Linked DNA regions of Homo sapiens: region 1 is linked to region 2. Evidence: fine-mapped expression QTL. A gene starts in region 2. The other region holds a variant in brackets. All regions are shown on one strand. Distances are from middle to middle.

What was found.
Region 1: its variant is fine-mapped to the expression of XPO6 in whole blood (TOPMed, PIP 0.90).

What each region holds. Positions count from the first base shown.
Region 1 is chr16:28,139,008-28,143,400 of GRCh38, forward strand. All of the region lies in intron 9 of XPO6 (exportin 6), which reads right to left. Among named protein-coding and RNA genes, the nearest start is that of XPO6, 71 kb to the right of the region's middle. RefSeq lists an enhancer at 2,619-2,668. The variant G/A (reference allele first, on the strand shown) is at 2,373.
Region 2 is chr16:28,209,999-28,214,391 of GRCh38, forward strand. It overlaps XPO6 (exportin 6), which reads right to left and starts at 1,967. Exons shown (of 24, transcript NM_015171.4): 1 at 1,368-1,967. The coding sequence starts at 1,370. RefSeq lists an enhancer at 1,087-2,085 and a silencer at 1,715-2,204.

The DNA.
Region 1 (4,393 bases), 71 kb before region 2:
TCCATGAGGTTCCTCTATGGTCTGAATTGTGCGACTCTTCCCCCAAAAAGTACTCATTCATATATTGAAGCCTAACCCTCAATGTGTCTGTATTTGAAGACAGGGCCTATAAAAAGGTAATAAAGTTATGTGAGGTCAAAGAGTAGGGCCTTAATCCAATAGGACTGTTGCCCTTATGAGAAGATGAAGAGACACAAGGGTTCTCTCCCTCCCTTTCCTCACATGCACACAAGAAAGGCCACGTGAGCATTCAGAGAGAAGGCGCCATCTGCAAGCTACCAAGAGAGCTCACAGAAACAGAATCTGCCAGCATCTTGAAGTGGAACTTCTAGACTCCAAAACTAAGAGAAAATAAATTTCTGTTGTTTAAGGCCAGCCTGTGGTATTTTGTTATGGTAGCCCAATCTAACTAATAGAGAAGGTAAACAATATGAGAAAGAAACCTGGAACTTCAAGAAGGAAGGAAAAGCAAGAGAAATGGCAATGTCTGGGTAAATCTAATAGACTACTTCTTTCTTCTTAAGAGCTATAAAATATGAATGATGGGTACGTGTATAAATTAGAACACTGTCTGGTGGGGTTTTCCAAGTATGTATATGTAAAACCTCAATATAAAGAAGAGAGGCTAAAGGACTCTAATCTATATGGTGGTAAGGTTTCCATACCACCCTTGTGGTAAAATGTGACTCTGAAAAGTTAAGTATATATACTGTAATACCCAGAGCAACCACCAAAAAAACCCACATAAAGAAATGTGGTCCAACACTCAATAGACACACTGGAAAAGAAAACTAAATGTGTATGCAACTAACAGAGTCTCAAAATAAATGAAGCAAAAACTGATCAAACTAAAAGGAGACAGACAAATCCAAAATTATTTTTGGAGAATTCACCCCCCTCTCAGTAACTGATAGAATAAGTAGGATAAAGACAACATGTACAGGCTGGGCGCAGTGGCTCACGCCTGTAATCCCAGCACTTTGGGAGGCCAAGGCAGGCGGATCACCTGAGGTCAGGAGTTCCAGACCAGCCTGGCCAACGTGGCAAAACCCTGTCTCTACTAAAAATACAAAAATTAGCCAGGCGTGGTGGCGGGCACCTGTAATCCCAGCTACTTGGGAGGCTGAGGCAGGAGAATCGCTTGAACCTGGGAGGTGGAGGTTGCAGTGAGCCGAGATCACACCATTGCACTCCAGCCTGGGTGACAGAGCAAGACCCCATCTCAAAAAAAAAAAAAAAAAGACATGTACAAATTAAACTAGAAAACAATAACAAAAAGGTATATGGAAAATCCCCAAATATTCGGAAACTAAACAGGAAATCTCCAAAGAAATTAGAAAATATTTTAAATCAAATGAAAATTAAAATGTAACATTAAAATTTGAAGGATAGCCGGGCGTGGTGGCTCACGCCTGTAATCCCAGCACTTTGGGAGGCCAAGGCGGGCGGATCACAAGGTCATGAGATTGAGACCAACCTGACCAACATGGTGAAACCCTGTCTCTACTGAAAATACAAAAATTAGCTGAGTGTGGTGGTTTGTGCCTGTAATCCCAGCTACTCGGGAGGCTGGGGCAGGAGAATTGCTTGAACCCGGGAAGCAGAGGTTGCAGTGAGCCAAGATCACGCCACTGCACTCCAGCCTGGTGACAGAGTGAGACCCCGTCTCAAAAAAAAAAAAAAAAATTTTTTTTGAGGGATAAAGCTAAAGCAGGGCTTAGAAGGAAATTTACAGCATTAAATGCTTATATACACCACAGAGATAAGCCTATAAGCCTCAAGTTCTGAGAGTTAAATAAAATTATACATGTTAAGGCAACTACATAGTAGGTGCTCAATAAAATATATATGAATAAAGAACAAATGAACAAAGAAATGAATGAAAAACACACAGGTGATAAACAGACAAAATTCCAAGTCAGGTAAATACAAAGGATTGAAGCATATTCCTGGATAGCTTTTTCAACTCAATAAAGCAACTAAGACTCTATTCACTTGCCCTGTGGGGCAGTCAAGAGCAAGAACTAGAAAGCTGCTAGAGCTCTGATCTAAACCTAGTTCACACCTTTATTGCACCACAATGTCATGTGTAACAGTGGCACTTCCTCTTTATTAAGCAGGTTCACCCACTCCAAAAAGCAAGGAGCAGTTTTTCTCACCCTCACTCACATTTGTTTACAGTCCTATCTAATGTCACCAGAATCCCTACGTTGGTTTGTGGCCAGCACTTGCCAGAAGTCTAGTCACAAAGAGGCTCACAGAACATGACACAATGACTTTAGGTTGCTTCACACACTCAGGTTTCTTCACCTTCCTGTAAAAATAAGTTTCTACACAGGTGACTCCCTTCACATTGACAAGCACAAAGAGCC[G/A]GAAGTGAGAGAGAAAGGGGAGGTGAACCAATGCTTATTTGCTGAGCACCTACTGTCAGCCAAGGCACTTTACGCTCATTAGTTCATCCCACTTTCTCAACAATCTGTGAGGAAGGCACAACCATCCAAAAGCACAAACAAGGAAAGGGAAAGGAAAATCCGGGCCTTTCCATGCCACCACCTCAAAATACAGATCAGGATGATCTACCCCATCGGCCATTCCACTCTGCAGGAATGGCTACAGAACATTTACCCCATTAACACTGGGGCTCAGGCTCTCTCAAGTCCCCACAGTCTCTCATCAAGAAATTCCTCTCACACCTGTAATCCCAGCACTTTGGGAGGCCGAGGCGGGTGGATCATGAGGTCAGGAGATCGAGACCACCCTGGCTAACACGGTGAAACCCCGTCTCTAATAAAAATACAAAAAATTAGCCGGGCGTGGTGGCGGGCACCTGTAGTCCCAGCTACTCGGAAGGCTGAGGCAGGAGAATGGTGTAAACCCAGGAGGCGGAGCTTGCAGCGAGCCAAGATCGCGCCACTGCGCTCCTGACCAGGCAAGTGAGCATGCAGAGCTCCAATTTCCAAGCTCCTAGGACCAAAAATAAATCTATGTATATTTGTGCTTCTAAATTTGTAGCCTACAATGCTTACCACTTTGTTGTGATGAATGATGCAAAACCTTTAAACCACAGGGGACAGGAAATGAGTGCTGCCTTTGTGACTTAACCACACCTACATTTCCCATTTAAGACAGCAAGAAAACATTTTTGACTACTTCCTGCAAGATTAGTTGCTTCTGAAATATGATTCCAGAACATCCCAACTTCTCTCTGGTATATTTTATCAGTTGACAAACATTTGATCACATGTGCATGCTCTTAGTTAACATAAATGTGGTCATCACCAGAAGCCAGTGTTCTTCAGCAGCTGCTCCTGCAAAACAGCATATCTCTGATATATTAAGAGTCTCTCATAGTCTGGAGTGGTGAATGTTAAGGGTTACAGAAAAAATTATAAGCTGAAGTTGAAATATTTTCTTTGTGCAGCCCACTGGACTAACACATGTTCTTTGTAGTCTACTGTCTTAGACCACTAAGGGGTATCTGACAGGACATGCAGTTCCCCAGACGGTGGTTACTATTTAACAGCACTAACCAGAGGAGCTTGGAGGGGTTTTTGTTGTTGTTGTTGTTTTATTTTATTTTAGAGACAGAGTCTTGCTCTGTCGCCCAGGCTGGAGTGCAATGGCATGATCATAGCTCACTGTGGCCTCCAACTCCTGGGCTTAAGCAGTCCTCCTGCTTCAGCCTCCTGAGTAGCCGGGACTACAGGCATGCACCACCATGCCTGGATAATTTTTGTATTTTTTGTACAGACAGAGTCTTGCTATGTTGCCCAGGCTGGTCTCAAACTCCTGGGCTCAAGTGATCCTCCCACCTTGGTCCCCACAAGGAGCTGGAACTACACGTGCACACTACCATGTCTGGCTAATTTGTTTTTTAAGTTTTTGTAGAGACAGGGTCTCATTATGTAGGCCGGGCTGGTCTCAAACTCCTGCCCTCAAGTGATCCTCCTGCCTCAGTCTCCCAAAGTGCTGGGATTACAAGAATGAGCAATGGCACTTGGCCTGTTGTTTTATTTTTCAAAGGCATAAAGGCATTATATGAAAGTGTTATGTTTAAAAAAGAATAAATCATGAAAAATTAAAAAGCCTCATTTAGGATGATAATCACATGATCAATGAGAAAAATTCCCACTGTTTCAAGTGGTCAGCCAGAACAACTGACAACTGTGACATTAGACAACAGATGCCAGGGCAGGCAGGTAAACATCTGCAGGTGGGCTAAAGGCCTTTAGACTGTCCAGGGGCCATGCCACCTAACGCTACAGTCACAACCACAGTCTAAAGGCAGTAACATCTTCTATTATTCATCATTGCTGTTGTCATCACTGTGACCATTTACTGAGTGCCTAATACATCTAGATGCTGTGCCAGGTATTTTACATACATGATTTCC
Region 2 (4,393 bases):
CTTGCCTGCAGCCCCAGCTACTTGGGAGGCTAAGGTGGGAGGACTGCTTGAGCCCAGGAGGTCGAGGCTGCAGTGAGCCATGAACGTGCCACTGCACTCCAGCCTAGGAAACAAAGCAAGACCCTGTCTCAAAACAAATAAAAATAAAACACATACACTATACGTATAGCATATACTGTACGGTGCTGCTCAGCATTAATGGTGTACTTTACCCAGCTGGTTGTAAGCTCCATATCTCAGGACCTACACACTACCCACAGGCCCCTTGAATGTTTCGAAAATTCCACAGGCCTTAAGGTCTGTATCACAAAAGATGCAGCTATGTCCCTTTCTCTATTATACCACTAACTTGGCAGGGGTAAAATGGGTGAAACTGAGGAGAACAGCTCCACTCCTCGAGGTGCTCAACCACAGGCTAGGTGATCCAGTACTTACCAAGGGCTTACTATGTGCCAGGAGCTGGAGCAGATAAGGGTTCAAACAATTTGGTCTTTGAAGGAGCTGTGTATACCGCAATAGACAGATAAGGCTCAGAAATAATTACAAGAGCAAAAAGGCAAATGCTTAACAAAGAGATGTGGGTACACACATTTAGGGGAGTATTGAAAGTATCGGTCTAGAAAACGTGGAGATGTGGATACACAAAGAGATGTGAGTACACACATTTAGGGGAGTATTGAAAGTATCGGTCTAGAAAACGTGGAAGGTAGCTTCAGCAGAGATCAGAGCATGTAGAATAGCAGCCTCAGTGTCAAAAGATCACGACCATTCCTGACTTTGCCATCACCTGTGCAAGTGACCTCTGTAAATCGCTCTGTTTCCTCATATATAAACCTACAGCTAGATGAGATGTTTCTCCTACAATCACCCAGCTCTCTAAGTGTATTAGAGATGCCTAGGTTCAAAGTCAGATGCCTAGGTTCAAATCTTAACACTGTTAAAAAGTCGCTTGACCTTGAGCTGGGGAATTAATTGCTCCGTGCCTCAGTCTCCCCACTTCCGAACAGAGGGCTGGTGTGATCATTAAATACTACTGCACTGTCAATCACTTCGCGCAGGGCCTTGGCAAGTAGTAAGCCCTCAATAAACGATAGTTATTATCCGGAGGAGCTGCAGGAGGCAAACACCAGATGCAAGGGTTGTGCCTGCTGCGCTCCCAGGGCCCTCCCAGGCCTGAGCCATCATCCCTGGGGGGATGGGAGCGCAGGGCCGGGGCTGCACACTCTGCACGCATGTGTCACCGGCCAGGCTCCGCACGCGCCTCTCCCCGCCATGGGGAGAGCAGCGATGGCTCAGCAGCCCCGGGGCCCATTCCCACCCTTCCGGTAGGGCACCCCAGGAGGGAAGGGGGCTCCAATTCCACTTACCATGCTGGCCGGGGAGGGGGCGGCTCAGATGAGCTGGTTCTTGGGCTTCGGACACGTCCCGCTCGCACAGTTCAGGTCATGGTCCCGGCAGACTCGGGAAGTCCCCCACCCATGCAAAGACAACCCCTTCCCCACCGGGCCCCGAGGGGACCCTCTAAAAAGGGCAGGGCCGCCCGGGTCGCCTCATCGGGGGACCCCGAGACAATTCATCCAGACCCACCCGCCCCTCCCCAAGGAAACTGAAAAAGCAGGAAATGAGGCTCGGATGCCGGCGAGGAGGGCAGCTGCTCGGGACCCCCGCCCGGGCCCGACCCCCGCGGGGGAGGCTGCGGGCCCAGGCAGGGGCTCCCCGGCCTCCGCGGGCAGAGGTGGCGGCGGCCCCGGCCCCGAGGCTGAACGGGCGGAGGCTGACAGGCCTCGACCGCGCGGCCCAGGCGGCCGGCTCAGGGGAGAGGCCCGGGGGCCCGCGCTGTCCTCGCAGCCTCAACCCACACGGCCACTGCCGCCGCCCCCTAGAGCATCCTTGCGCGCGCCCGCCCTGGAGCCGCCCGCTAGTACCGCGCGGCCGCCCCCGACCAACAGCCCCAACGCGCCGGAAGTGGCGAGCGCCGGGCGGCCCCACAGCGCGGCCGCCGGGCTGCGGCGCTGGAACCGGACCAATCCGGAATCGAGCGGGGCGAGCGGGGGGAGCGGGCGGAGGGCGGAGGGCGGGGCTGCACCTGACGGCTCCCACTGGCCCCGCCTTCTTACCACGCCCTCTCTTGCCCCGCCCCCTGCGCCCACCGCCCGTGCGTCCACGCGGGCCGGCAGCCATCTTGGTAAAGGGAGCCCGGGCTGCCATTTTAGTAAAGGCGTGGTTTCCCTTTCGCTTTTTTCGCCCATTCATTCCGCTAAAATTTTAGTGAGTGCCTTTTACGGGCGGAGCATCGAGCTGGCAGCGTGACGACACGCGGCCCTATGGAGCTTACATTCATGCAGTCCACACACTCTTGCCCGACTATATTCCAGGCCCTGCTGTGGATGCTAGGACAGGGGAGATAAACGTAACTTCGATAGCCAAGGTGCTGAGAGAGGCAGAGAATGTGTTGGATTCCTGTTCCCATCCTCCAATCCACTTTACTCGTGAAAGTGCTCATCTTTATTTTGTTTTATTTTTGGGGACAGGTTCTTGCTCTGTTGCCCAGGCTGGAGTGCGGTAACACAATCATGGCTCACTGCAGCCTCAACCTCCTGGTGCGCCACCATGCCCAGCTAAATTTTTTTATTTTTTGCAGAGGTGAGGCCTCCTTTTGATGCTTGGGCTGGTCTGGAACTCCTGGGCTCAAGCAGCTTTCCTGCCTCAGCCTTCCAAAGTGCTGGGATTACAGGTATGAGTCATCCAGCCAGGCTGAAAGTGCTAATTTTAAGAAACAGTCAGGAAACTATCCCAAACAGCTGAGGTTGAGCCCGCGGGTGTGCCTACTACATAGATTGGAGCAAATCTATGTAACCCAATGGCCCTTGTCAACCTTAAATAACGAGATTGAGAAAATAGTATTTAAGTATAGGGTTTATTCAAGCCCGAAGCTTGAAGATGGCCCACCAGAAGTATAGTCCAATTAGTGGCAGTTACAAATGGGGTTTCCTTGTTTGTTTGTTTGTTTTTAAGACAGGGTCTTGCTCTGTCGCCCAGACTAGAGTGTAGTTTGTTGTTGTTGTTGTTTGAGACGGAGTCTCGCTTTGTCGCCCAGGCTGGAGTGCAATGGTGCAATCTCAGCTCACTGCAACTTCCGCCTCCCGGGTTCAAACGATTATCCTGCCTCAGCCTCTCGAGTAGCTGGGACTACAGGCACCCACCATGATGCCCGGCTATTTTTTTTATTTTTAGTAGAAACGGAGTTTCACCATAGTGGCCAGGCTGGTCTTGAACTCCCGACCTCAGGTGATCCGCCAGCCTCGGCCTCCCAAAGTGCTGGGATTACAGGCGTGAGCCCTCCCGCCTGGCTTCAAGTGGGTTTCTAAGGAAAAAAGAGGCATAACATAAGGTTGAATAGGAATGATGAGAAAGGGGGAAAAAATAACATAAGCTATTGCCTATACATTGTTCTTTGTATCACAAATTTCAGGAACCTGAAGGAAATGGGGGAGGCAGCTAGTCTGGAACAAAATATCTTTAAACAATTGTCCCCGAGCATGTGGAGGTGGGAGTGTGCCCGAACTCCCATACACAAGTCTCAGTGGACCTGACAAATTTTGCATACTTCACATAACTCAGACTTCCCTGAGCTATTTTTCTTTCCTGTCAAACCTCAGTGTGATCTGAATCAATTCACCCAGAAGGACTGTTAAAACAAAGATTACTCGCTCCACTCATAGACTTTCCCATCCAGTAGGTTTGAGATGGGGCTGAATAATTTGCATTTCTAACAAGCTCCCAAATGAAGCTGATGCTGCAGGTCTAGATACCACATTTGGAGAACCACTGATACAACACTTTACCACTGAAAGCAATAGCTTTCAGGGGTTTTTTAGTTTTTTGTTTGTTTGTTTGTTTGTTTGTTTTTGGAGAAAGGGTCTCACTCTGTTGCAGTGACATGATCATGGCTCACTGCAGCCTCAAACTCCCAGCCTCAAGCACTTTTTTTTTTTTTTTAATGAGACAGAGTTTCGGTCTTGTTGCCCAGGCTGGAGTGCAATGGCATGATCTCGGCTCACCGCAACGTCCGCCTCCTGGGTTCAAGCAATTCTCCTGCCTCAGCCTCCCAAGTAGCTGGGATTACAGGAGCCCACCACCGCACCCAACTAATTTTTTGTATTTTCAGTAGAGACGGGGTTTCACCATGTTGGTCAGGCTGGTCTCAAACTCCCGACCTCAGGTGATCCACCCGCCTCGTCCTCCCAAAGTGCTGAGATTACAGGCATGAGCCACCGCGCCAGGCCATCAAGCACTATTTTTTTTTCTCTTGAGAGGGAGTTTCGCTCTTGTTGCCCAGGCTGGAGTACAATGGTGCAATCTCGGCTCACTGCAACCTCTGCCTCCCAGGTTC